7 separate regions of the Homo sapiens genome follow, and regions 2, 3, 4, 5, 6 and 7 are each linked to region 1. Evidence: fine-mapped expression QTL. A gene starts in region 1. Each other region holds a variant in brackets. All regions are shown on one strand. Distances are between the middles of the regions.

Region 1 (4,068 bases):
ATCTTTAGTAGACACGGGGTTTCACTATGTTGGCCAGGCTGGTCTGGAACTCCTGACCTCGTGATTCGCCCCCTTCGGCCTCCCAAACTGCTGGGATTACAGGCGTGAGCCACCGTGCCGGGCCCTCTCTCTTCTATTTAAAAGGATAGGCACAGCCTTTGGAACTGAATGTCTTTCCTCAGGCCTCATAATAGAAAATGAGGAAAGTCCATTCTGACAACTGGCTGCCTTAGGCAACAGAATTTGGGATTCCTACCCTTCCAGCTCCTGTTGAGTCAAAGGCAAAGGCAATAACCCAATAAATGTGGTGAGACAGTAAATGGAAACTGACATAAAAATAGCAATAAAAGCCTACTTCCTTCTTGACAATCAATACATAATGGAATGGGTATGATTTTACACCATAAAACATCAGAGAATAATAGAATATGGGCTGAAGAAAGCTCAGAAGCCACAACATTTTCCCCACCTTTTGATTTTCAAAACGATTCTTAAGATTTGTCGGGAGTATTTGTTTTCAATTGTTTCAGTGAGGCTCAGTTTTGACCACATGCAACCAAAATAGAGAATTTCATGGAGGATGGTCACAGGATTGGCTTAGAAAAATGTAATCCTGTGAGCTGTCCCCTTTCATAAATAATAAGGTTCCGACGGCTGCACCGAATGTTCCTCCTTTCAACGAGGTTGGGCCGAGGTTGGGCTCCCAGCTGCTGGGACATTTTTAGTCCATCTTGGACTCTCACCTCTGCCTCCTGCTCAGCTGTCAGAATGCCAGGCGGCTCTGCAGCCCAAAGCCCACTCCGTTTTAAACTTGCTCGTTTGCAATCACGTAACCCGCTACTGACGACAGAACCCTCAAGGCCCATTTATATGCGGTTCTCAAGTTTAGGTCTAGGGAAGTTTCCAGGAAGCTTAGTGTTCGGGGAGGAATTCGTTTTGCTTTTGCTAATCAAAGAGACACAAAAGCACAGCTGAGTCCCGAAGCTGGCACACGGGAAATCGAGGTACCACTGTCCCCTCACCGGAGCGCGCAACAATCACTTGGGGAGCGGGGAAAAGGTTTCCACCTTCCCCGAGCCTGGGGCACCTTCGCTCCCACCGCCCCAGCTGGTGGTGGTCTCGACACCACGCTCGTTGCGGGGTCACACGCCAGAGCTGGAAAGGGGAGGTCCAGCCCCAAGTAAAGCGACAAAGTAAGGACACAGTGGTGGCCAAGGGCTGTCTCCTAACCCCAGTCCCGAAAGACAGTGTGGAAAGTCCGCCGGCGCGCCAGCCCTTGAAACTCTGCCGGTCCGGCCGCGGCCCCTCCCCTGCGCGTCCCCACCTGTTGTGAAGCTGCCCAAGCTCCTTCTTGCCCAAATGCTTTGGAAACTGCCAAAGGACACTCAGAGGCCAGGGAATGTAACAGGCAAGCATAAATATGCAGAAGAGATGGAACCAAAATAGCGGGCAGGCAGGGCCGGCGCTCGTGGGGGTCGGTGATCTGGAGCCGGGCCCCCGCCGCCGCGGCCGCGCCAGCAGTGCCAAGACCTGGCGGGCGGCGCCGGCGCACTCCGGGCACCGAGTCTGCAAAAGAGGCCCTGAGCGGACCGCCGGACACCTCGCAGACTGCGGGCAGCGGTGGTGGCGGCCGCCTCTCCGGGGCTCCACGGCCGACCCGCCGCCCGCCGCCGCCATCCCCGGCCCGCTCCTGCCGGGTCCCCGACTCGAGCCCCGGAGGCGCCCGCTCTGCGGGACCGCGCAGCCCGGCTGCATGGAGCCCGGCGCGGTGCCCCGGCCGGCCGAGCCAGCCACGGCGCGAGAAACCGTCGCCCGCCACGGCGAGGGCAGGAAGAAGATGGCGGCTACCGTGGCGGCGGCGGCGGCGGCAGCGGCCTCACACGCGTCGCTGACGCCAATGGCTCGCGCCGGTCGGCGGGCCGCGGATGGCGGCGGCGGCGGCGGCGGCTCGGGCTCCGGCGAGGGGCGGGGCGAGGCGGGGAGGGGGCCGGCCGGAGGCAGAGGCTGGAGGGAGGCGGCGGGGACAGTTTGTTGTGCTCGGAACATGGCGGGCGTCGGCGACGCGGCCGCTCCGGGAGAAGGCGGCGGTGGCGGCGTGGACGGCCCGCAGCGGGACGGCCGCGGCGAGGCGGAGCAGCCGGGCGGCAGCGGCGGACAGGGGCCCCCGCCGGCGCCTCAGCTCACAGAGACGCTGGGCTTCTACGAGAGCGACCGGCGGCGGGAGAGGCGCCGGGGCCGCACAGGTGAGGCGGGCGGCGCTAGGCCGTGGCGGGCTCCGAGGGGCGGACTGGGGACCGAGGGCGGCGGGGGCGCCTTGGAACCCCGGCCCCCGAGCCGCGCGGCTGCCGTTGCCTCCCGGGGCTCCCCAGGCTGTGGGCGCGCGGAGCCGCCGAGGCTGCCGAGGCTCCGCGGCCGTTGACAGTTCCTCGGGCGGGTTGCGCGCGCAGCCCCGAGGCCCCCGCGGCCGCGCCAGGCCAGGTGTGCCCTAGAAGGGGTCTGCGGCCGGGAAAGTTCTGTCCGGGTCCTTGCATCGCCCTCGGAAGGTCTTAGGTTAGCGGGCATCTCCCACGTCTCGGAGCCCAAACGTGAGAAGCACACGGCTGATTTCTTAATTATATTCATGCCAAGGTGACTTTTTTTGTTCTGTATTTTAAGCAAACTTGAGCCATAGAAACCTGTTAACTTGCCCTGCAAGTAGATTTTTCACAGACAGCTGACGGTGTGGTAGTGACCATGAAGTTCAGTAGTTTTGCCCAGTACAGAAATATTTAACACTCCATAAAATGTTGCATCTGAACTTTTCCTGAACTGAAACTTATGCCAAAAAAATTACTAGATGAGAAAATGTGTACTTATGAATCCTACATTCAATGACCAGTTTTAAACGTATTGTTACAATGTTACAGTTTCTATAAGCTGTAGGTTTTTATTCTCATTTTAAAAGAATTTTTAAAACTTGCATTTGTATTCATATTGCAGTTACAGATTAGTTTTAAATGAAAAAAGGTTTTGAGATGGATGTCTTCTTGAATATAGAGTGAACCCAACGTTTTAATTCTCAAGCTGTAAACAGCAACTGAACCATAACTCCATTAAATTTCTTCCAACTAAAAAATTACTTCTGTTGTCCAAAAGGGGCTGTGTTAGCCGTTATTTCCTGAAGTTCATGCAAATAACTAAGTTGTGAGGCTGATTACATCATTGATTGTACTTGAGTACTGAAATTTTAAAACTACTTAAGGGGCATAAAGTTGATCAGATGCGATTCTAATTGATTTGCTGATTCCCAGAACTGGACGTAGGTTCTATTTGAAGCAGTCTATATTTTTGGAAAATTACAGACGGTCTTGTTTGGTCTTTTTCAATTAACCACTTAAAAATTCTCAACCATACTTTATTTGGTTTAGTTCTCAGTTAAACATTTGCTTTCAAGAGTATTTACTTTCTTCATTGGCAGGATCTCAGTAAGACAAAATAGCAAATCTCTCAACTGTCTGTTTACTTACTTAGACTTGAATATTAAAAGCACTCTGTTGTAAATAGAGATAGATGTAGCCAGGCTTCACTATACTTTCTTTAAAACATTTCTCAGTTGCAGGAAAGCCACCATTTTAAAAGCCTTTTTTTGTTGTTTGCGTGGAGAGGAAATGAAGTTGTTTGAAGCCTATTGATGAGCACAGATCTTGAGCTTGCAGTATCACTTAACACTTCTTCCCTGGCTTTTTCTGGGACTGGATACCTGGACTTCCATGGACTTCATTATACCACGTATCCATTCTTCACCAACATGGTTCACCATGTTTAAGGCTGGATTTTTTTTAACCCATAGTTGCAGGAAGTCATTATCAGGGAGATGCCTCCAGGTTTAGCTGTTGGGGTAGTCCTTGTTCTTTCCCCAGTTCCATTGATTTTGTGTGAGGAGATGTCAGTGGCCACTCCTGCTTTACCAAGTCACACTAGCCTTGGCGATCAGGATTTAGGTGAGAATTCCAAATTCCAGGAGTATTTCAGCTGGAGCCACTGGCCAGTGTTCTCTCTGAGCCTCCACATAAGCCCCTCCTTCTTTTC
Region 2 (4,068 bases), 85 kb after region 1:
ATATCCCCAGGAGTGGAATTGCTGAGTCACATGGTAACTCTGTCTAACTTTCTAAGGACCTGCCAATCTGTTTTGTAAAGTAGCTGTACCAGAAGCCAGCAGACTATGAGGGTTCCAATATCTCCCACCCTTACCAACCCTGCTATTATCTGTCTTTTTTATGACAGCCATCCTAGTGGGTGTGGTGGCTTGTTTTCATACAAGGTCCATTTCTCTGTTTTACAATGATGTGTATTACTTTAGTAATCGTGAGGGGTGTGTTATTAAAACAAACCATAAAAGTCACAAAGTCCTCTGCTGGGATTTCCATTAGCAAAAGTGCACAGAAATGCAGTTCCAGTTTGGGAAGTTGGGTGGGCATCTGTGGGAGAACAGGGACATGGGGGGAAGTCTTTGCAGCCTGCCTCTATTGCTGTTCTCTGAGGCTCTGACCTCACTCCACCGTTTCCCCAACCACACCTGGCTGCCCTCTATGGGCATGGCGATGGCAGCCTCCTCCACAGCTCATTCTTCATGTGCAGTTCTTTCTCCAGGCTGTGTAGTGTGGTTGGAAGCCTCCTGGCCTGCAGAGTTAGGTAGACCTGGGTGTGAACCCTGCTGTGGGACCTCTGCTAGTGCATAACCTCTTGAGCTTTGCCATCCTCTATAAAACTGAGACACATCTCAGCCTCATGGCGTTGCCGATGGCTAAATGCAAAACAGCTGTCCAGGGTGCTCACAAGAGTTGTGTCCTCTGCCCCCCTTTTCTGCACTTCTGCTCTGTGCATGTGGGGATTGGCCCTCTCTGCCTGCATTTCAGGTTTACTTTCTGGTTTGGGTCTCACTTCACTCTGCTCCTTGGCTAGTGGGCAACAGAAAGCACTACACGATTAGAAGACCTCTAAGGGTATTACAGGAAGATGCTGGAAAGAGCACTGAGCTTTGTTAGGTCCTCTTATAGGCAATGTCAGCCCCCAGCAAGGACCAAACCTTTATCAAAAGGTAAGGTTCAGAACTACGCACCTCAAATATGCTCCAGGTCACCAGTTTAACTTAGTGCATCCAGTATTGCTGGAGTGTACGTGTGATTAGTACTGTGCTCCCGGAGAGTCTCAAACTCCAGATGTCTCAGAGATAGTCAAATGACAGGGGACTTTTTTTTCTTTTTAAGTGCAAACCTAATAATGTGATCATTGTCTGTGTAGCCCAAGTTACAGAACTGAAAGCAATGCTAAGAATTGTAGCAGTCGCTATTAATTGAGGATTTAATGCCTTTAACTCTACTAGTGGTTTACAGACACTATCTTAATCCTCTGGCACTCATGAGCTTCCTTGTAGCCCCATTTCCTTGCCTTCTCAAATGTTGCAGAAGCAATTCCTTGCCCAGTTTGTGTTTTTATTCTGTATTTTTGATGCTTTGACATCTTGGGGCTTTGCTGACCCTGGAGGGACCACCCCTTACTGGACTAGCGAATTCCTAGGAATAGCAAATGTCTGGTGTGTGAGCCAATGTGCCTTTCATATGCAAACCAACCAATCCAGAGCCATACCCCAACCACCTCCTATATCTGTTCTCATACTCCAGGCCACTATCTGCCTGCTCTAATCACCCCAGGGCTGGACAACCGGGGTCAGCCCTAGGGAAAGACAATTAGGGACACACAACCAGGGGCAGCCCCTGTGCCCAAGAGCCTGCTAAGATTATTCAAATTAGACAATCCTAAAGCTGCTGACACTACCTCACCTGTTCCTCCCTGTGGAAACCTCAGTAAAGGACTAACATGGGTGCTTCTCCATGTGGCCCTGCACGCCCTGCTTCTAGGGACCTGTGAGTAGCAAACTTCTTCATGACAGTCACTTTCATGTCTCACCATAACAGCTTAAAACAAATTTGGGATGCCTTTTAAACACTCCTAGAGACCCAGTCTAGAGCCACCCAACTTCCTGACAGCTTTCAGATGATTTCTGGAAGCACCTAATTAACTGTATTAATTCTCTGTATACCTAAAACCCACTAGGGGACTTTCTGTTTCCTGCCATTAACTCTGATGATAGAGTAACTTACTCTGGACTGTGGAGCTGACCATGGACAAAGACACACACTGTTCACCTTGAGCAACCAAGCCCTCTACCAGGAAGCTCTACTCTATTTACACTGGTATTTGGATCCTAATCTACAGTCCCAAAGGCTTGCCTCTCTGAAAGCATTTCCCCAACCACAGAATGTTGCTCTGTCCATTATA[T/G]GGCCTTTGTTGGCCAGCTTCCAGGTAAAGCTGTTGCCTGAGTAAGTGTTTTGAAATTCCTTGAGGTCTGGATCATTTCCCTGTAGTGACCTGGGCTCCAGGTTTGGTTTCAGTCCCTGGGGGACAAGAATCCAAGACTTCAGTGAAGCTGAACTGAGCCTTCTTTCCATTTATGGAGAAGCCCAGGAGATGCCAGGGAATCTGAGAAAACTTTCTTCTGCCTCCAACATTTTCAGAATAGTGCTTTGGCTCTCCTTGAGGCTTAGAGGAAAGTTTTGGGCCAGAGCCCATCAGATATTCCTACCTATATGTTTCCTGTGGACTCTTTGGGGAAACTTCTCACAGTCTAGGTAGATCCTATAGCATGTTCTAGTAGTAAAAAGATTGAAGTCCAATTTAAGCCACTCAGATCTTCTGTTTCGCTTTTTTTTTTTTTTTTTTCCATCTCACGTCCCATTCAAAGCAGTTGCCTTTTCCCCAGCTTAGGCAAGGACAGCCCCAGGAATAGGACCCGGTGTGTCCCTCATATGCCCTGTTGCACCTGGAGCTGGGGGAAGGGGTGGGTGGCGGAGGGGAGATGTGAACTCAAGGCTGCCTCACCTGACTCTTGGAGTATCTGGCCATGGGTCTTCTATGTGGCAGATGCCCAAAGGTTGGCCCTTATATTAGTTTGCTAGGGTTGCCATAGCAGCATATCTCAAACTGGGTGTCCTACATCAACAGAAATTTATTCTCTCACAGTTCTGAAAGCTAGAAGTCCAAAATCAAGGTGTTGGCAGGACCAGCCTCCCTCTGAAACCCCTGGGGCAGGGTCATATTTTGCCTTTTCCAGCTTCTGGCAGCCCCCGAAGCACTATCCTTAGATAGTGATACCATGACTCCAATCTTTGCATCTATTCAAATGGTGCTCTCTTCTCTGTGTCTGTTTCCAAATTTCCCTTTTCTGATAAGTACAACAGTCATATTGGATTAAGGGCCCCCCCTGGTCCACTACAACCTCATTCTAACTGATTACATCAGCCCCAACCCCATTCCCAAATAAGGTCACCTTCACAGGTTCTAGGGGTGAGGAATTCATTCAACACATCTTTTTGAGGGACACAGTTCAACCCATAACAGCCCTCTTTCTTTTCTCTCTTCCAAGAGGTACCTTTTGTGGGTTCTTCAGAGATATCCACTAGCCTCACTTCCACCCCTGCCCCCACCTGGGGCCTGCTGGCATGATAGATGCACCCTCTGTTCTGACCTCTCCCAGCTCCTTCTCATCTCTTCATCTCCCGCCCCAGGGGCCCGCCCTGGAGTTCTGCCAGGCAGCCTGCTTGGGCAGGGTTGTTTCCAGGGTGGCTCTAGTCCGGCCCCTTCCTTGGTGTTCCCTCTGCCCAGCCAGTCTCTGGGGGTGCAGGCTGCTCCCCAGGCTGCCTGACCATCCTCCTCATGCATCCTGGACATCTTCAGGAAAAAAGCTGACTCTAGTGTGTGACCTCCAAAGTTCAGGAGGCCAAGGTGTCACCCAGCATTGTCACTGCACTCTGCTCTGGCCTTGTAGTGGCCCTGGGTGCACAGTTTAGCAGCTTAGGAGACATTCAGCACGTAGTCAGAAACCAGACTGGCCCATGGACACCCCTTCCCCTCCCCAGAGATTCTCCTGCCCCTTCCCCTCATTTAGGATGAGGAGCCCTGGCTTTTCTCTTTCCTCTCAGAAAAGAAGGAGAAACAAGTTAGGCACAATGGTGTGGGTCTGTAGCCCCAGCTCCTCAAGAGGCTGAGCTGCGAGGATCCCTCGGGCCCAGGAGCTCAAGGCTGCAGTGAGCTATGATTGTGCCACTGCATTCCAGCCTGGGTGACA
Region 3 (4,068 bases), 89 kb before region 1:
AAAAGCACTCAAACGCATATTAAACCCTTCCCTTCAGAGAAGTACTCAGTCAGTCAAGATTCTCAAGCACCATAAAAACAATTCTAAATGATACTTCATTTTTAAAAAGTGTCTTTCAAAAATCCCAAAAGACTGATGGAAAAAAGATTAACAGCTATCATTTGATGGCTGTGAAATGGTTGCTTCAATCTTGGGAAAAACAGGTTGGATTTCGAGGGAGATGTTATGAATAACATGGTGCTTGGAAAAAAATATATACATATAAATGTATAAAGTATATTCTGTATTCATAGCATATTCATATATAAATTTATAAAAGTATATATGAATATAATATTTATATATTTTGATATATTCATATATTAACACATGTATAAATATATATATGTATGAATGAATATATGTTTATATATAAATGAAAACTATGTGAAAGACTGCTATTATATACATCAAATTCTGCATGGGCCTGCTGGTGCAGTCCAGTAACAGCAAACACCTGCTCTTAACTGGTAGCTGACCGTGGGCCAACTGAGAAGACAGTGGCAGGAACTTGCTGTTGCCTGTGGGTTGGTTTTCCATTCACACATACTCAAGACTGAACTTGTTCATAGGTCAGTGCCCTTCACCTGTGCATTCTCTTCTTTGCTATACTCTCTGATCTTCCTCTTTCTCCTCTGCCCCCCGCAGATTTATTCCCCAGGGCCCCAACTTCATACTGCCTGAGTCCAGTATGGTCAAGGCAAAGATCCACCCCTCCAGAGAAAGCAATAATGACTCCTACTAGAATCTTCCAGGGCCTTTGGAGAAGAGCAACTTCAAGACAAATTTTAAGAGTGCTAATACTGTGTCCATTTTAGTAAATACCTTGGATGCATTGTTACTCTAAAAACCATTCTCTGTTCCGTGGAGGATGAGACCTGGAAAGAAGAAAGGGATGATGATGAGGAACTGAGAACCCTAGCCTGCCTCCTATGCTTGTCTGACCCTCTGAGGCGGCCATGGGAAGCTTTTCCCTAAAGCCTTTGGCACTTCAGTTCTGTCAATTGCTGCCCCTTTGGTGTCTTTTCAGAATTTGTGTCACCACACTCTGCTGGTGTGTCTGCCAGAAGCCTGACCATGCTTAGGATTCGGCCTAAGGATTCAGTGAATCTAACAGCTCACACCTGGATGGAGAAGGGAGGAGAAGATTGGGACATTAGTACCAGAATCCAAGAGGGTTAGTCTTACGCAAGTCTCAGAAATTGGCACTCCCTCGATATGAAGCCAACCTCTTTCTCCCAGGCCCAATCAACAGAAAAAGGATGCAAGTGGCAGAAAAGTAAATTATTGAGACTCTGTCTTTTAAACCACATCATCAATTTGAAAATAAAGCTTTTTATTTTTAGGATGCCAGCAGAATTGTTATGGCTCTGCCCCTGCGGTCTCAATAGTGGCCTTGGGCTCTAAAACCTTGACCTTGGAAAGAAAACATTTACATTGTAAATGCACTGGCAGTATGAGCACTGTTCTATGGTGAAGTACCCAACAGAGGCTAAAAA[T/C]TCAGAAGCGGCTTTTCCCTTTCTTCTGAAAGGCCTAATCCGCGGGGCTTTCACAGTGACAAAATCAAACTCTTAGCAGTAATTGTGCATTGGTTCTAGCCGTGAACTTGCATAAAATCTGAAATTTCACGCCACCTATCCTGTTGCAGGGAGTTTACCACTGATCATCAGGAAATGGAGCTTCTGGAGAGGCTTGAAGGAAATTAGACTGTGCAGGCCCTTGGGCAAGCATACTTGTGAACAAAATGCCTTTACAGTCATCCCTTCTTCCAAAACACAGGCAGCTTCACGCTTTGTTGAGCTGGTACTTGAGTCCTGCAGAGGCACACAGGTTCTGATGCGATGGCTTCGAGAAAACAGACCGTGTCTACTTTAGATATCTAAAGTCAGCCTACTACACCCAGACATTCTCTTATCCATCTCCAGTTAGGCTGGAAAAAGGAAGACTCAGAGTGGCTTGATGGCTAATTCCATGTGCTCTGATGGAGTGTCAGGAAGAAGGACAAGGTCCATTATGACCAGTGGGCAAAATGATAGCCAGTGGGTGGAAGCAATGGGAGGAAGCTTCTAGCCCATCCAGCAGGGGTTCTTTCTCCTCATTAGGATGGTCTGAAGCTGGAATGAGCCAGCTCTCAAGCTCACAATTGGCTTATCACTGAAGATGTCCAGAGGGGGGCCTCCACTGACAACCCTTGACACTAATTCTTTGCATGGTCTTGGCCCAGCATCACAGAGTGACGCAGACTGGCCTCACAGGAGCAGCTCTGGAAAATGGAGAGACATCAAGGGGTCAAGATGAGATCATTCACCTTTCTGGGGTCTCTGACTCCTTAGGAAGTTCTCCTTAAGGGTCAGGACTGCTCCAAGTGTTTTATAGTTATTAACTCATTAAAGCTGCACACCAATCCTAAGATCAAAGGTGGGTGCTCTCATCTTTTCCTACTTTACAGATGAGGAAACCAGGGCTCAGGGGTTACCTAACCCCTCCCAGATCGCAGAGCAAGCAAGTGGCAGAGGAGAAGTCCCTGGCTAAACACCACAGTCCACTCTCATAGCCTCTATACTGCTCTGTCTCAGAATGCTCTCTGCAGGCCCCCTGATGTCCTGTAGTGTGACCATCACTATCTGCTTTGTCTTCCTTCCTTACCAGTAGCTGTTCCGCTGATGGACTGGGTCTCTTCTGACATCGATTTTGCAAAGGCAATATCCCCTACACAGACTGTGAAAAACCCCAAGGTTATCCTCTTTGGTTAGTGATAGACCTTGAATTCATTTTATTTTTCAGACACAGTTCTAGATACACAGCCAGCATCTGCCACCAATGGCACTCAAAGCTGATGGAATGAATGATTTCACATCAGCAGTCACACAAATTATCACCACTGAATTGCATGGATGTTATCAAATCAGAAAGAAATGAGGCCAAAGCAAATATCACACATATGTAGTGCTTTTGCTTCTTAAATTTAAGTTTTATAAGTAATTTTGGCTCTGTGTTAAAAACAAAAAAATAATAATATAATAGCTAACACTTATATCATGTTATGTGCCAGACCCTATCCTAAGCTCTTTTCTCTTATTAACTAATTTAGTCCTCACAAATACGCTGAGATGTTAGGCAGCATTACAATCCCCATTTTAAAGAGGAGGGAACCAAAATACAAAGAACTGAAGTTTAGGTTTCAGTACCTGAGCTAGTAACCAGACTAGTGTGCCAAGTGCCAGAGGAAGGTGGCCTAAACCAAAGTAATTTGGAAGAGGTTCAGAGAAAAGGATTAATTCAAGAGACATCACACTAAATAAGTAAATTGCAATAAAGCTGGAAATGGGAGGCAAAGAAAGAGACACCATCGAAGACAGCTGCCAAGCTTCCAACGAACATGTCTTCTTGTCAAAACTGCAAAGATTCCACCTCTATGTCTTTGTTCAGGCTCTTCCCTTTGTTTGCAACGCCTTTCCATGCCCTTCCATGATTGTTCTGCAAAGCCTCTTATTAACTGCTCCTCACCTCCTGCCTCTGCATCCCTATATCTCATTGTTAGTTGGCATACAGTTCCTGGCCCTCACCCATCTTCCTCCATGTTTTAAGCTCCTCAAAGGTAAAGACATAGCACAGTGATGAGTGGGGAGCCCCAAACTCTAGCTATTTAACATCAGTTTTGTGATTCTGTCTTGCTATACAGTCATGCCTGCATTACTTTTCACTTAATTTTTAAAATAACTTGGATGACCCAATAGGTGCAGTAAACCACCATGGCACAGATTTACCTATGTAACAAACCTGCACTTCCTGCACATGTACCCCAGAACTTAAAATAAAAATAACTTGCCTATAGGATTGCAAAGGGTATACAATAAGAAATAGAAATATAAAATAGAATAAAATAATAACTTGCTTATTTTAGGAGAGTTTTAGATTCATGGAAAATTTGTGAAGATAGTACAGAGAGTTCCCACATAGCCTCTACAAGTTTTCCATATTATTAACATCTTATGTTGGGATGGTATATTTGCCACAATTTATGAACAA
Region 4 (4,068 bases), 96 kb after region 1:
ATATACATAAATATATATGTGGTTACAGAAATGCAAGGCTAGTTCAACATTTAAAAATCAGTGGATGTAATTTTTAGCAGATGGAATAAGAAAACCCATATAGTCACATCATGATGGAAATTCTCAAATATTTAGGATTAGAAAAGAACTTCCTTAACACAGTAAAGGTAATATTTTCTTTAAAAATCCTACAGCTAACAGCATACTATGGTAAAAGACTGAATGGTTTCTCTTTAAGATGGAAAATAAGACAAAGACAACTTCTCTTCACTCCTATGTCATACTGGAAGACCTAGCAATGGGACAAGAAAAGGAAAGAAAAGGCATACAGATTGGAAAGGAAGAAAGAAAATACTTCCTGAATATTTTATAAAGTGCCAGGCACAATGGCTCATGCCTGTAATCCCAACACTTTGGGAGGCCGAGGCGGGCAGATCACGTGAGGTCAGGAGTTTGAGACCAGCCTGGCCAACATGGTGAAACCCCATCTCTAATAAAAATACAAAAATTAGCCAGGTGTAGTGGCAGGCACCTATAATCCCAGCTACTCGGGAAGCTGAGGCACAAGAATCCCTTGAACCTGGGAGTCAGAGGTTGCAGTGAGCCGAGATCGCGCTATTGCACTCCAGCCTTGGGCGACAAAGCGAGACTCTGTCACAAAAAAAAGAAAAAGAAAAAAAAAAAATGTGCTCTTAAGATTGTTGCCCTTTCTTGCAGTTTTAAATTTCCTATACTTTTGCATGGACTTGACACTTTATACGATGCTTTGAGACAAATGTGTCCTTAAATTTTGGATCTAGAAATGTGGTAATAAAGCTAGGTAATTGGTTTTCAAGACAGTAAGATCCCACCAAAATTTCTAGTGCATCTCAGTTTTCATTGCATGCACACAGATTTCAGCCTTTCCCTGGAGTAGAAGTATAAGAGGAATGTTTATAATAGCTCAAAGGTGCCAGATATGACATTGAGGTGGGCATTTGGCTATTGAGCCTTCCAAAGGCCAAGGTTAAATGGAACTGTATATCTGGAAAAACACTGAGACCAAAGTCAAACTTCTATGAACCCCTAGTATACGCCTGGCTATTCCCAAGTTCTCTAACCTATGAGAAACCCTTCCTTTAAACAACCAGTGGGCCAGACATGGTGGTTCATGCCTATAACCCCAGCACTTTGGGAGGCCAAGGTGGACGGATCATTTGAGGTCAGGAGTTCGAGACCAGCCTGACCAATATGGTGAAACCCCATCGCTACTAAAAATACAAAAAAATTTAGCTGGGCATGGTAGCGCATGCCTGTAGTCCTAGCTACTTGAGAAGCTGAGGCAGGAGAATTGCTTGAACCTGGGAGGCGGTTCAAGCTGAGTACTCCACTCAGCAGAGGTTGCAGTAAGCCACTGTACTCCAGCCTGGGCGACAGAGCAAGACTCTGTCTCAAAAACAAAACAAAACAAAACAAAACAAAACAAAACAAAACGGAACAAAACAAAACAAAAAAACAACTAGTGTAGGCCCAAGCCCCAGATCATTTATTTGATTAGCAGAAAATACAGAGTTTTAACAGAGTCTCTCCGAGGGGTCCCAGAGGGACACCAACATGTTCCAAAATATGTCTTTCATGTGTATTGTCACCTCAATAACAACCTCCCTTCAGGCCTTGCTCACTCTCTGCAGATGTTCTCTCACTACTTCACAGCAGAAGCTTTCCCATGCCTGGATCCTGCCTCCCTAATCCCCAGACC[T/A]CAGTGGACTCAAGACTGGAAGAGTTAATAAAATATCCCTGTAGGCAATATCCTCAGAAGGTAATTAAAAATAGAAAAAGAAAACAAACCACTTAAACAGGACACAAAGTATCATGGCTCCCAGATCCAGAGGCTGAGTCCCGCCTTGAGGGACCAATCCCTCTCAGATGGGCTCTCCTTAGCCCCACATCTACCTCTGACCTACTTGGTCTCCAAACAAGATGACAGTCTTTTGCCATTTCTCCTTGCCAGATTCAGATATTTTTAGTCCTGGACCCCAAAGAGACAGATCAAACCTGATCCTCAAAGCAATGCAACTCTCTATCAATGAACACATCCACCTGTATCATTTTGCAGCCTATGGTTAGCAAAACTTCATTCAGAATTTCTTCAGTTCAGAAGAGGTCTTGGTCTTTGTGTTAGATTATAGGAGTCTTTTTACGGTGTCTTCACATAATCAATGTGTCATCCGGGCATGGTGGCTCATGCTTGTAATCCCAGTACTTTGGGAGGCTGAGACAAGAGGATCCCTTGAGCCCAGAAGTTTGAGATCAGCCTGGGCAAGATGGTAAGATCCTGTTTCTACAAAAAAGTTAAAAACATTAGCTGGGCTTGACAACATGCTGACAGTAGCTGTGGTCCCAGCTATTCAGGAGGCTGAGATGGAAGGATCAGTTGAGCCTGGGAGATTGAGGCTGCAGTGAGCTGTGATCATGCCATTGCACTCCAGCCTGGGAGACAGAGTGAGACCCTGTCTCAAAAACAGCAACAACAACAACAAAAATCAATGTATCGTCTTTGCCCAAAGATAAAGTCTGCCTTATCTGCCTGTATGTAAAAATACTAATGTGTTTCCAATTCTCTGTATTGAGGTTTCGAAAACATTAGGTTCAATATGAGAACATCTTATTACAAATATATATCATGGCAGACACAGCTAGTGGCCTTCTCAGCATCTTTTCTCCTTTTCTTTCCTTCTCAATATCTGTTTAAGGTATTTGCAGTGAAACTCTTTAACTGATGTGTGTGTGTGTGTGTGTGTGTGTGTGAATGTAGCAAAACTGTGATCACATACATTTCTATTTTAGGAGAATGTGATGAAGTGGTTCTTTCAGCTATAAGGCTGCCTCTCCTAGGACACCAGGCACACAGAAAGGCCAGCTGTTCAGATAAGACCTCCTAATCAAAACAGACTCAGCCTTATCAGTGACATTCCCTGAGCCAGGCCCACAGCAGGGCAACAAATATTTGTTCAGTAAATGAATACATGAAAGAAATGTTTCCTGTTGTCAGTGTCCCTGTAATCTGGTGGAGGAGGTAATAATGTACATTTACAAGCTGTAGGATCAAATAAGTGCTACAGCCACGGGGATCCCATTTTCTGGCTCAGACCCTGCAATAAGAATTCTGATAAAGTATTTTTCTTCTGATTTTAAAATATATTTACATGAAAATATCCCAACTTACGCACATCCAACTGCTTTCTATAACCTCCCCCTCTTCCACCTTAATGTAAGCCACGTAATCTCATGCCTGTCTATCAAGGGCCTTTCCAAATCATTCACACTGTGTCCAATCCATTCTTACCCTCTGTAAATGGTTCAAGGGGTTTTGTATGTGGACACTGGGCAGGTGAAAATACTCTCCTCTGGAGTCTGAATCCTATAGGACGAGATAGCAGCCTTGGGTTGCTAATGGTCAGGTTCTCTACTTCTTGAAGAAAGCTGGTCGGTAGTAGAGAAGAATAAAATTAACAAAGCCCTAGAAAAATAACTTGAGTCACTGGATGCAGCTGTGCCAGAGGCTTGCCCCTATTCTTTCTGGATACCTAAGTCAGCTTCTCTTTTGTGTTTAAATTTCTTTGGAGTTAGTTATCTGTCACTTGCAAGAAGAAGTATTCTGACAAATGCAATTCTCTAAGTCTTAGTTTGCTCTTCTGCAAAATAGGCTACCTCCTAGTTCTGTTGTGAGGATCAAGTGAACTAATATTTGTATCAGAGCTTTGTAAATATAAAGTAAAAATATTCTTTGTCACATACCCACCAAAAGCACTGATTGGATAGGATGCATTTGGATGCAAGTAATAAAGCATGCAACTAAAATTAGTTTGAGCCACAGCTACTCAAAGTTTGAGGCCTGGACCAGCACCAGCGTCGTGGGTCACGAATAACAGATGTTTCAAGGTGTTTCAGGTGAGTTTTTTTGTTGGCTCAGAAAGGTCTAGGAAGGGGATTGGGTGGGCAGGGGTTCACTCCTCTCAGAGGCCGCAGGAAACATCACATGTTTCACAGGTCTACCTGGTGTGGGAGCTCCAAATCTTCTCCATTGTC
Region 5 (4,068 bases), 65 kb before region 1:
CTTGTGTCTACCTATTTTACAATTTTTCCTAAAACCACCTTGTTCCCAAGAAATGGATTCTTCACTTCATATATTTTCAAGCTCACAGGCCATTTTGCCTCTATTTTACAGCGTAAGAATTTTGAAATGAGGAAACATCAGTGAAATCCATGTTTAAGGCACTTTTATTCTCATGCCACTATTTCCCTGCAATGGTGACCTTTAAATTTAGCCTGAGTATAAGTGGGGTTGTCAGAACATCAGGTTACATTATGTTATTCAGCTATTTGTGCCTTTTAAAGACGATGTAAGTTCCAACATAGACCGCACAGCGGGAAAGTTACCCTGATGATATTCTGGAAACTGCCGCAGCCAGGATCACATCCGGAAGTGGGTCAGTATTCAAGAAGGCTCATGCTTCTTGGAAGTCACTTTTACTGGAAACAGGCCCACATTTATCCTTCCAGAAAATAAGTAACCTGTGGCTCGTGCATGGCCTTTCTTCTTCAGGCAGATTGGAGAGAGGATTGTGTTTGAAAGAAAAGAATGGAAATGTGCCTGCAGCACTTATTTTTCTCCTTCAGGGTGGCGTGTGGAGCTGTGTGCTTGGACCTGCAGTGAACGGTGTAGTCACTGATTTTTCCACCTAATCTGGGGTTCAGAGGACTCCGGGCTGGTACTGGTCCTCCACAATTCCTCCTAGATGTAAACCAGCCCCCCGACCTTTTTTGCAGCTGTTTGACTAGCTGAGCCCACTTCCTCATTGATAAACAGCTTTGATAAATAGGTTGAACTAAACAGCTCCCAGAGACACTTCCAGCTCTGGTCATGCAATTGATTTCTTCAGGATGCTTTCAGAGACACATCAGGGCAAGAAGCATGGGGCATGGGGTGAACGGAGGAGGGAGAGGGGATCCAGCTTTGAATGGTAAGGCAGGGCTTCTCCACTTCTTGTTGCATTGCCATGAAACAATGACCTCTCGCTGTGCTCCCAGTCCCAAAGAATAAGCTGTAAGCTGATGTATGAGAAGAAAGATCCGAAGGAGATGCATAGACACATAGAAATCACAAATAATAATAATAATAATAAAACCTAATACAATGCCTAACTTGCTCCTTAGCTCCTTAGAAAACTGCAATGTGGCACTAGACAAAAGACACCTTCCTGGGCTTTACCCCAACCCAGTCCAGTTTAAATGACAATGGACCTGCACACTTTAATAGTTTTTAAAGCCCATTGCCTATAGACAGGCAGGATAATCTAGTAACAATGAGAAACATCATCAGGCACTAAGTTCTAGCACTGTTCTGATTGCTGTAAAGGTATTAGGTAGAGTCATATGCAGCGGCTGTTTTTCTAGGCCAAAAATGGATAAACACCAGCAATTTCATATTTCTATCTAAGATTAACTCTTTTGATTTTTACAACAATCTTCTAAACACTGTTGTTGTCTTTTGTTATGAGCTCTAGATGGGTTTTTAACTCAGCTCTGCTACTCTGGTCAAATGTGCCTTCGTTTTCTCCCATGTAAAATGAGACTAATAATACTGCTTGCTTCATAGGGTTATCACGAGGACTAAATGAGTGAATAAATGTAACAGTGCCTGACACATAAGTGCTAAATAAACATCGGTCATTATCATTAGCTTTACGTAAAGTGACGTTAAGGTCTCCTTCATTCTAGAAATACTTTGTGCAGTGGCATTTCATGTTTTTTTTTTTTTTTTT[C/TTC]CTACCAGGCACTTATTTCTTCTTCTCTTCTAAAATAGCATCCCAATTTCCCTTTCAGGGAACTTGTCCCCCTGGCTGACTATCAGCCAGGGATCCTTGCCTCCCCTCACTATGGCGTATACATGTACCCTGAGGTTAGCCAGCCTCTCTCCTGTGTCCTGTATTTTCCAAAGCCACATTATTCTGCTCTTCCTGTGATTCTGAAGCTCTTCTGTGTCCTTCCAATAAATTCCTTTTTTATTGCCCATGAACAATGGGCACGTGGAGGAAATACGGAAGGTAATTTAGCAGATTGTTGGCAAGTTAAGTTAGCAAGATAAGTGGTTTCTATTGTTGCAACTAAATATCTTTAAAATATATATCATTGGAAATAGACATTGTAATGTTCTTTTTATGAATAATGAAACCAGCTAACATTTACTGATTCTCTGTCTAGACTTTTACTATGTGGTTATGTTTAACACACTTCTGCGACAGTAAGCGCCATTAACCCCATTTTGCAGAGAAGAAAATTGAAGACTTAGATTCCTCTGCCAGCTTGTCCTGCTTGTGTGTCCTTGAGCAAGTCTCTGAACATATCCAAGGTCTCAGTGTCCTGATATGTGAAGTGGGGTTGGTGACCTTTCCCACGCACAGGGTGGTTTTGAGAATCAAGCAAGATGATGAACGTATAAAAGCTCTTTGTAAACTATATAGTTACATGCCATATACGGGTAAGATTGCATTATGATTCTCTTTGACAAAAGGACACATTTTAACTCCTGTGTCTTGGTGCCTAATTTAAGCCATTTGTTGTTCTTTCTGCATAATAATAATAATAACAAATAAATAATGCATGTTTCAAAGTGAAAGCCCTAGCTAACACACTCCCCAGAATGAGATTCTTTTTCTTGGAAGCAACACTACACCTATGTGGATTTCCTGGGTGCTTTATGTTCTTGCCAGGCTAATCATGGCTGAAACTTGTGTTCTCTGCTTTTCTGATCAAACTTAGAGTCCTTCTCTCTCTTTTCCCTTTATTTCCCTCCTGTCTTTCCCAATCTCGAAGCTCCCCAAGGACCAATAAATTCCGGCATTGACTACACACAGCCTTCTAAGGGTTTTCAGTATATTAGAAATAAGATCCAACTTCCTGTATTGAAACCAGAATTTAAATGAAGGTTTTCCAAACTCTACTGAGGATTATATAAAGAGTAAGCAGGAATCATAAAAATTAGGAATATTATTTTCAAATGCCAGGGTTTTTAATAGACAAATAAGGTATGGGATCAGGCTGCAGTATATTAGCAAAAGATAGAGAAAAACGAATGAACGAGAAACATTTCACTGTGAAAACCAGATGAATATTCTTATTGGCCCACAGTGCCATCTTGTGGATCATTTTTAAATAGGGCTTTGTTTTCAGTTGTGATTGCATTTGTTTGACTGTTCCTAATCATGTAAAGCATCCATTAAAGTCTGCAAATGATTTCCAGGTAACCCAAGAGAACATAGATGAACACACCTGGTGGAACTCATCTGTTTATTGATATCTCATCCTCCTTAGGCACAGTTGGCCTGTCATTCCATGCTTTAAATAACTTCTCTCTTTGCCCTCTGTAATAGTAGATGTTCATGGTTCTCTCTGGCCATTTTCTTCCAGCCTTCACCAAATCTACTTTATCTATGTAACTCCTAAGGTATGTTCTTTGCCTTCTCTTTCTAGATGTAGTGGTTATGCACCTTGTCACAGGTTTTGTAACCCATAGAAAACCAATGGTCACCCATGGTCCACGGACATTCTTTCCAGAAAAAGACACTCAGATGACTGTGCCCCTCCTGGCACACACACTCTGATAGAAACAGAACACACACTCTTACACACTTGCACACACCTACACTCACATACATGCTCACACATTTCAGCCAACAATTTCAGGGGGGTTCACAAAGTTCCTGGTTCCATGTTTAGAACCTTTGCTTGACAGTACTTCCTTCAGTGATGTTATGGAATCCTAGACTTGTAACTATCACACCTATGAAGAGGTATCTCAGATGCCAGGTTCTTTTCTATATCCAGTCCTTTGTTTCCAACCGCCCTCACTATTTCTGATGTAAACATCCTGCCCTTCCCTATGGCTAACGCTGTAGCCATGTTGATCTCCTCTCAAGAAACACTTCTGGGCACGTTCAAATTCTGTTCACTCTCCAAGCCCCGGTTCATATACTACCATCTCTGGGAAGTCAATCTCTAATCAGAGAGAATTAAACTTTCCCTTTGTGATCTCTTAGACTATTTTTTTAAGTTTTCACATTAAATATTTCAGACTTTCTACTGTTTATAATTGCCTGAGTAGATAGGTTCTTAAGGAAAGAAAACA
Region 6 (4,068 bases), 43 kb after region 1:
TGACTAGAGTGAAACGCTGTCTCAAAAAAAAAAAAAAATTACGATGATTCCAAAGGACTTTTATTTATATGGATTATGTCTCTCCCTATTCACCATATTCGAAATGAAAACTGAGAAATTTTAATAAAAATATTACATGCTTACAAAAATAACATTTCAATAAAAAAGATATTTTATAAAACAAAATTTAGTGAGAAGAGTTTCTCAACAAGTAATGCTGGAACAGTTGGATAAAGGTTAAAAAAAAAAGAACTTTGGCCCCTTCCCTGCCCAAGAAAATTAATTCATAGTGGTTCATAACCCTAAACATAAATGCTAAAGTTATAAAACTTCTAGAACAAAATATAGGAGAAAACATTCACAACCTTGGTCTAGGCAAACATTTTTGGAGACCACACAAAAAGTACTAAATGTAAAACAAAAGAGAGAAACTGGACTTCTTCAAAATTAAAATATGTGATCATAAAACTTAAAAAGTGAAAAGGCCAGCCACAGTACTAAGAGAAAAGATTTGAGATGCATATATCTGACGATAGATTTTGTTTGTTTGTTTTCTGAATATATAACAAACTATACCAATCAATAATGAAAGGACAATCTAGTTTTAAAATGGGGAAAAGGCTTGAACAGACATTTCACAAAAGAAAATCTATAAATGTCCAATAAGGTCATGAAAAGCTGCTCGGCATTATTAGGGAAAATGTCACTGGAGAAAGACAAAGCCATAATGAGATAGCACTGCACACCCTCCAGAGTGACTGCTCTTGTAGCCTGACAGTGCCACAAGTTAGGATATGGATTAACTGGCACTCAGGCATCGATGGCGTGAGTGTAAAGTATTACAACTGCTGTTTTTGGCCATTTCTTTTACAGTTAAATGTTCACCTGCCCTGTAATTCAGGAAATATATTTCCTCAGTAGGACTTGTTGCAAGAATTATTATGGCAGCTTTGTTCATACTAGCCAAAAACTGGAAACAACCCAAATAGCTATCAGTAGGAAAATAAACAAACTGTATATCCATACCATAGAATACTACTTAGCAATTAAAGATAAAAGAATGAACTCCTAATATTGTCAGCTATGTAGGTCTCAGAAGCATTATGTTGAGCAGAAAAGCCAGACACAAAAGTGTACATGATGTATTATTTCATTTATATGAAGTTTATGATCAGACAAAATTCGTTTATGATGATAGGAATAAGAGGTTGTTTGTTGGGCATTTGGATTGACTAAGGGGACTCAAAGGAGCTTTCTGGATGATGGAACTTCTTTCTGTATTAAGGGCTTGGTGTCTCAAGTTATGCATTGATCAGAACTCATCACATAATGTACTTAAGATCTGTGCATTTCACTGTATGTAAATTTTACCTGTATATTAGACAAGGAAAATAATGGCATATGAATATGTTAAACAAGTTATAGGAGATTTGAAAACTAAGCAAGGAACAAAAAGAACAAATGGAAAACTTGAACATAAAGCCTAGATGATTCTATGAGGCCATGCTGGACCTGACTCTCAAGGCTCTGAGAAGCAGTTCATATTCTTGCTGCTTATTAATGTTGCTCACCTTTCAAGTGCAGACTGCCAAGTGTCATGAATTAGAAATGAAAGAGGAAGGAGGGAAGGTACTAAATTATAGAATACTTTGCTTCAGTAGTTAACCATAGAGTAAATTGATTCAACTGTAAGAATTTCGTTTGTTGTGGAAACCATGTTTTTTTTAAATTAATTCATATTAGTAACCTCCTTTGGGTAAGTGCTCTTTATAGAGCCTTAAACTAGACACGCAGATCTTAAGTTTTAAAGGTTTTCAATCCTTGTGTATAAAAGCTTCAAAATTATGAGGGGGAAATTGTGAATGTTTTTAACCTTATGGCCAGCATGTTGATGTAATTAATACCCCTTTTCATTTTTATAAACGGGTTCCCCAGAATTCCAACCTCTTAGCTTAGAAAGATTAGGTATTCAATATTTGAGTTTTAAGAAAACTCTGGGAAAAAAAATGATATAATGATCAGGTATGCATATCAGTCTACAAGAAATTTGGACTTTATTTTGGCTTAAAATGGTTACTACTTAGCACCAAAAAAAAAA[T/AT]TACTTTTTGCTGTAAGCAAAGTAGCTCATGTTACAATGCAAGGTGGTCCGCATTGTACCCTTTAAGAGTTTTATAAGAAATTAACTTTACCCTAAGGCAGATTTTAAGACCCTTCTCAAGTAAGAAAAAAAATATTCTAGGCAACGTTCAGCTATTAAAATGGAAAGATCAGGAGTCACCAAGAGGTGCTTTTTACTCTTTATATGAATATGTTGCCTTCTTCATATGCTTCAGTAGTAGCTACTTAATGAGAGCCAGTCAGGAGGGATACTCATATCGGCTATTTTTTTCTTATGAATTTTCCTATGAATTTTTTCTCCATCAGAATTTGAGTTGCCAGATACGTAGTGTAAGGTTCAGTCCTTCATGCTGGTTTAATATAGAAGACTTCATGGAGAAATCTGAGAGTAACTTTACCCCTTTCAGTGGTAGCTCACTGTATATTTTCTTTGGAGGAATTGCCTGAGGACATGTGAAAAGTAGTTTAGTTACCAAAACCAGATTTTTAACAAATTATCCTTTTCTTCACTTCATTTTAACATAAGCGTTAGCTGAATGTGGAACCCCAGCCTTTCTGGTTTGCATTCTTGAGATGAAGAATTTTAGGTAGTTTTTTACGCATTGGTAATGTGAACTGTGCATTTAGAAAGGTCCTTCAGGAGTTAGGTTGTCTGGAGTAAGCTTATAGCTCACTTAGCACTCTTAGAAGCCTGCATATCTGCAATAAATGTGGATGTTTGTTGGAAATAGTCACTCATTTTATATTTAAAATGTGACTGCAAGTATGTTAAAGTATATCCCTGTTAGTGGTAATATAGCAAGGAAAAAGCTTAATAACCTGAATGTCAGAAATATTTTAAAAGCATTAATACCAATGTTTTTAAGCTTCTTAATAAAGGTTAGGAGAAAACATTCCTAGAAATTTTAATTTTTAATCAATGTAAGAGTTCAGTTCTAATCCGAACCCTGACTATTCTGAAGATGAGATGGTATAAATATGTTGCTGATTGCATTATTTATCTAATATATGTTTGATTATCAGTATCAGACTCTGTTATTCTCATAAAAATTTTATTTCTTTTTATATCTTACTTTGGAGAAACTTAAAATTTGGGTATTTTTTAACTCAAATTTTAAAAGTCAAATCTTGATTTTATAATGTCTATGTAAAACATTTAAATGTAAAAGTTGTGAAAGTGTAAGAATAAAACTTCCAAAAAATCTTCACATAACAGCCTCATTTTTATAGTTAGATATAGTTTTGTATCTTTATCTTATCAAATAAAGATAGAGTTAATTTTTATGGTGTCACTTTTTAATCTTTAAGCTTGCCATCCTTCACATCCTTCATCTTATAAAATCGCATTCATTTACCAAATTTATCCATTTTTATTAATCTCTATCATATTTTGAAATAGTCTGCTTTTCTAAAATTTGTTTTGGGCCAGGCACAGTGGCTCACGCCTGTAATCCCAACACTTTGGGAGGCCAAGATGGGCGGATCACCTGAGATCAGGAGTTGGAGACCAGCTTGGCCAACATGGTGAAACCCTGTCTCTGCTAAAAATATAAAAATTAGCCGGGCATGGTGGCACATGCCTGTAATCCCAGCTACTCCGGAGGCTGAGACAGGAGAATTGCTTGAACCCGGGAGGTGGAGGCTGCATCCAGCCTGGGAGACAAAGCAAGACTCTTGTCTCAAAAAAATAAAAAAATCTTAAAAAATAAAATCTGTTTTGCCTTAAATACACCTTTAATGAGATAAGTTTTTCCCCCTTTCATCAGTATCCTTAGAAATGAAATTATTGCAGATTTTCTCTATACTTGCAGCTGCCATATGTCCAAAAATCAAATACAATTAATTTAAATTCGATGGTAGTTTTGCTTTGTTAGAGTTTACAAAAGTTACTTTGGCTCATTTCAGATAGTGTTTTAAATTTCTCAAGGCCATTTATTTTCAGATAATTCT
Region 7 (4,068 bases), 110 kb before region 1:
AGAAAACATAAATGTCAAAATATGGTCTGGAAGAGTCAGCTGGGAGCCGGCTGTAAGAACTCCTTCATCTCTTATCACTGGTTTAGCAACATGGACGTACACACCAGGAGTAGGGCCACATGAAGTCCTTCCTATATACTAAACTATCACATATTCAGCTCAGTTTGGTTGGCCAAATGGTGGCGTGCACCCTGGAATGGAAACCAGGACATCTGGGTTCTATACCAGGGAACTCAGGTGCATCAGCTCATTTAATCTTCTCAACAACCCAGTGATGTAATATTGTCTTCATTTAGCAATTGACAAAACTGAGTATGCCCAGTGGCACCTCTGATCCAAACCCAAGTCTACATGACTCTGAAATCTTTCCTCTACCCATTATTGCACACTCTCTCTTCCATCACAATTTCCAAACTAAAATTCGCTTAGGTAAAATGATGGGTCTTGGCTGGAAAATATCAAAAGTCAGGTCCAGTTATAACACTTCACGATTACACTATGACATTACAAAATTTAGTAAGTTTATTACAGAATATTCAATATTCATTCCATCAGCATCAACTGAGTGCTGAGATACAGGCTTGGTTTGAACTATTGAGGATCTGGTTACAGATTAGATATGACCACTGCCCCTGTTAGTCAGGGATCTGGCAGGAAACAGAGAGCATGTTCAAGATGGATAAGTTACGGAGAAGAAAGTAAAGGGAATACCTCAAAGGAATGGGCAGGAATAGAAAAGCTAATGAGAACAAGCATAGGACCCTGGGACTAATGACAGAGAGGAGCAGTTCACCTTTCTTCCTGAATGGGCAAGAGGAAGGGAAGGTTGCCAGGACCTAAAGTAGCTGCATGCAGAGACACCTGATACAAACTGAGCTCTTCAGACAACCCCTGGAGGGTTGGCATGAAGTCACACTTGCAGCCCCCTTTTCCTAAACTGTACCAGTTGGAGAATGTTAGAAGTTCGTGGGTTGGAAATCTAGAGGTAGCTGCAACTTTAAGAGAGATTTCAAAGCAAACGGTTGCCCTCAGGACTGCTTTTTCTGACCTCATATATTCAACAAACATTGATTAAATGTCTACTTTTGGTCCAAGCACTAGGGTTACAAGAAATAATAGATAAACCCAGAAAGTTGACAGGTAAAACACAGGCATTTAGAATACAGGATGAAAACTGCAATAGGCATAGTTCTGGAAGGTATGAACTGATCTGGAAAGAAAACATCCTGGGGAAGGATGCTAACACCTTGAGTCTTGAAGGACAAAGAAGATAATGTGACTTGAAAGGAGGGAAAAGTCCTCAAACCAAGAGAGCAAATGTGCAAAGGCCTGAAGAAGACAAACGGCACGGTTCCAGAGCCTGTGGGATCTCAGAGGGCAGATAGACTCAATAAATAGCTGTAACTGGCGTTGAAGGTAGAAATGTAGCATCATCCAGGAGAATGAGAAAGGTCACCAAGGAGCATGCAGAAAGAAAAAAAAGGAAAACAGCTACAGACTATGGGGCCTGAGGTATGCAGAAGAAGTCCACATTGTAATTCCTGGAATCTGTGACTATGTTACCTCACGTGGCAAAAGGGACTGAGCAGTTGATTAAATTAAGGATCTTGACATGAGAGATTATCCTGGATTATACAGATGGGTTGAATGTAATCTCAAGGATCTTTATCCATGAAAAGGGGAAACACTCTCTCCAGAAGGAGTGCACCCCTGC[A/G]CATACCTTAATTTTATCCCGGTGAAACCCATTTTCAGCTTCTGACCTCTGAACCATAAATTTTAAACCCCCATGACATGAGTTTACCTGTGTAACAAACCTTCACTTGTACCCCTGAACCAGAAATAAATGTTTTAAAATAAATAAATAAATAAATCTGTATTGCTTTAAACCACTACGTTTGTGGTAATTTGTTATGACAGCAATAGGAAGCTAATACAGTACCCATAGAACACTTTGTTGTATGTTAAAAGAATGTGATTGGCCCATTAGTAGTAACAGGGAAACATTTTTCAAGACACATTGTCATTGTTTTTAAGACAATTTGCAAAAATAAATTATGTAAGTTTTTTTAAACCTCCACAAAACTAAACTAAATACCCATGGATTTATACAGGTCTATAAATGCATGGGAAAAGATCTGGTACCATTTCTATGAAACCAAAACAGTGGTGACCTCTGGGGTAGAGGAAGGCTCTAAAGATTGCAGATACTAGAGGACTTCAAAAAGTTTACGGAAAGTGGAACTAAAAGATAAAAATAAAATATGTAAGTTTTATTTCACATCAAAGTCAAGACAATTTTGTAAGCTATGATTTCAGCCATTTAGTTCATCCCTAAAGAACTGAGGGTCCTGAAAATTTAGCCATGTCTATGCAACCTTTTTTAGATTATAAACTATCACATTAGTATTCTGAAGCAGAACGTGAAATTTATGTTTTTATGTGATTTTTATGTGTAATTATATGAAATATCATGTTTTATATTCCTTTAGAGGTGCTAGGGGTCTTTCTTACCAATTGTCACTGTTAACTTCTATATCCCAAGTGTCTAGTATAGTGCCAAGTACATAGTGGCATTCCGTAAGTATTTGCAGAAAGGAAGAGAATGTGAATATGTTACCTCATGTGGCAAAAGGGACTGATCAGTCGATTAAATTAAGGATCTTGACATGAGGTAACTGAAGAAAAGTGGGTGCCCCTTACAGATTTTTTTTAAGGTTAGACAGCAAAAAGAAGTCAGAAGACACCAAATAACACCTGTAAGGTGAATGCCTAATAATTTCCCACTGAAATGCTCCCAAAGTTTCCCTTGTTTGATGAAAGGAGTGAGCAGGAGCATTGTCATGGTGGAATAGGACTCTCTAGTAATGCTTTCCCAGACTTTTTTGTTTTTTTCTGCTCAAGCTTTAGTTAACTTTCTCAACACTCTCATAATAAGCAGATGTTATCATTTATTGGCCTTCCAGAAAAATCAGCAAGCAAAATGCCTTGACAATCCCCCAAAATTGTTACCATGACCTCTGCTCTTGGCTGGTTCCCTTTTGCTTTGACTGGGCCACTTCTATGTCTTAGTAACCATTGCTCTGATTATGTCTTGTCTTCAGGATAATATTGGTAAGCATTGTTTCATTTTCTGTTACAATTCTTCTTAAAAAATGCTTCAGGATCTTGATCCTACTTGTTTAAAATTTTCATTGAAAACTTTTTTTTGTCTGCAGATGATTTGGTGGACACAATGGTTTTGGAACTCAACAAGTGGAAAGTTTGTTAAACTTTAATTTTTCATTCAGAATTGTGTAAGCTGAACCATTTGAGATGTCTGTGATGTTGGCTCTTGTTTCTGCTGTTAATCATCAGTCCTCTTCAATTAAAGCACAAACAAGGTGAATTTTTTCCTTGCAAGTTGATGTGAATGGCCTGCTACTGCGGGCTTCATCTTCAACACTGGATTTATTCCTTGTTAAGACAAATTATTCATTTGTAAACTGCTGAATAATATGGGGCATTATCCTCATAAATTTTCATAAAGCATCAATGATTTTTATCAATTTTCCACCCTAGTTTCACCATAAATTTGATGTTTGTTCTTGCTTCAATTTTAGCAGAATTCATGTTGTTCTGATAAGGATTCTTTTCAAACTGATATATTGTCCTTCTTAGTGCCTTAAACTAGATTCTGTTCAGACACAGTATAACACATTAGTATGAGTTTATTTTGGTGCAAAAAAAAGTGAAAACCATGCATAGTTTGTTCATAATATGCATTTTCTATGAACATTTTGAAGACCCCTCATAGGTGTGTATGTAAAGGCTGAGATAACAAACTCAGGAGTGAACTTCACCAAAAGATAAACACAGTTACCTCTGCAATATAGAAAGGGATGAAGGGTGGTATTTTAGGGGAACTTTGGCTTTATCCAAAAACAATGAATGGTTTATAAAGAGATATATTCACACATTTATTATGTAAAAAATAGAAAGCCAAATATTGGTTAAAATCCTTTAAGTAGAAAATAAAATGACCTGAATATAAAACTGCAGGTAATATGAATTTATTACATTCCAGCAAAG

Which allele goes with the higher level. Positions count from the first base shown, and alleles are read on the strand shown. Sizes are in standard deviations (SD) of each study's normalised expression. Not every link is listed here.
For the expression in B cells of the gene that starts at base 1,839 in region 1, TTC is the low allele of the variant in region 5 and C is the other (moderate effect, 0.54 SD a copy in Fairfax 2012).

The links. PIP is the estimated chance that this variant, and not a neighbour inherited with it, causes the effect.
Region 2: its variant is fine-mapped to the expression of TAPT1-AS1 in whole blood (TOPMed, PIP above 0.99).
Region 3: its variant is fine-mapped to the expression of TAPT1-AS1 in whole blood (TOPMed, PIP above 0.99).
Region 4: its variant is fine-mapped to the expression of TAPT1-AS1 in blood mononuclear cells (TOPMed, PIP above 0.99).
Region 5: its variant is fine-mapped to the expression of TAPT1-AS1 in B cells (Fairfax 2012, PIP 0.95).
Region 6: its variant is fine-mapped to the expression of TAPT1-AS1 in whole blood (TOPMed, PIP above 0.99).
Region 7: its variant is fine-mapped to the expression of TAPT1-AS1 in whole blood (INTERVAL, PIP above 0.99).

The regions. Positions count from the first base shown.
Region 1 is chr4:16,224,434-16,228,501 of GRCh38, reverse strand. TAPT1-AS1 (TAPT1 antisense RNA 1) reads right to left here and starts at 1,839. Exons shown (of 3, transcript NR_027697.1): 1 at 1,325-1,839. TAPT1 (transmembrane anterior posterior transformation 1) reads left to right here and starts at 2,031. Exons shown (of 14, transcript NM_153365.3): 1 at 2,031-2,243. The coding sequence starts at 2,045. RefSeq lists an enhancer at 919-978 and silencers at 1,489-1,688, 1,749-1,818, 1,829-1,928, 1,939-1,988, 2,099-2,478.
Region 2 is chr4:16,139,216-16,143,283 of GRCh38, reverse strand. No RefSeq gene overlaps it. Among named protein-coding and RNA genes, the nearest start is that of PROM1, 57 kb to the right of the region's middle. The variant T/G (reference allele first, on the strand shown) is at 2,223.
Region 3 is chr4:16,313,279-16,317,346 of GRCh38, reverse strand. The region is part of intron 2 of LOC124900674 (a long non-coding RNA gene); the gene reads right to left. Among named protein-coding and RNA genes, the nearest start is that of TAPT1-AS1, 89 kb to the right of the region's middle. The variant T/C (reference allele first, on the strand shown) is at 1,539.
Region 4 is chr4:16,128,412-16,132,479 of GRCh38, reverse strand. No RefSeq gene overlaps it. Among named protein-coding and RNA genes, the nearest start is that of PROM1, 46 kb to the right of the region's middle. The variant T/A (reference allele first, on the strand shown) is at 1,739.
Region 5 is chr4:16,289,094-16,293,161 of GRCh38, reverse strand. All of the region lies in intron 2 of LOC124900674 (a long non-coding RNA gene), which reads right to left. Among named protein-coding and RNA genes, the nearest start is that of TAPT1-AS1, 64 kb to the right of the region's middle. The variant C/TTC (reference allele first, on the strand shown) is at 1,709.
Region 6 is chr4:16,181,341-16,185,408 of GRCh38, reverse strand. The region is part of intron 7 of TAPT1 (transmembrane anterior posterior transformation 1); the gene reads left to right. Among named protein-coding and RNA genes, the nearest start is that of TAPT1, 43 kb to the left of the region's middle. The variant T/AT (reference allele first, on the strand shown) is at 2,099.
Region 7 is chr4:16,330,376-16,334,443 of GRCh38, reverse strand. All of the region lies in intron 4 of LOC124900674 (a long non-coding RNA gene), which reads right to left. Among named protein-coding and RNA genes, the nearest start is that of TAPT1-AS1, 110 kb to the right of the region's middle. The variant A/G (reference allele first, on the strand shown) is at 1,715.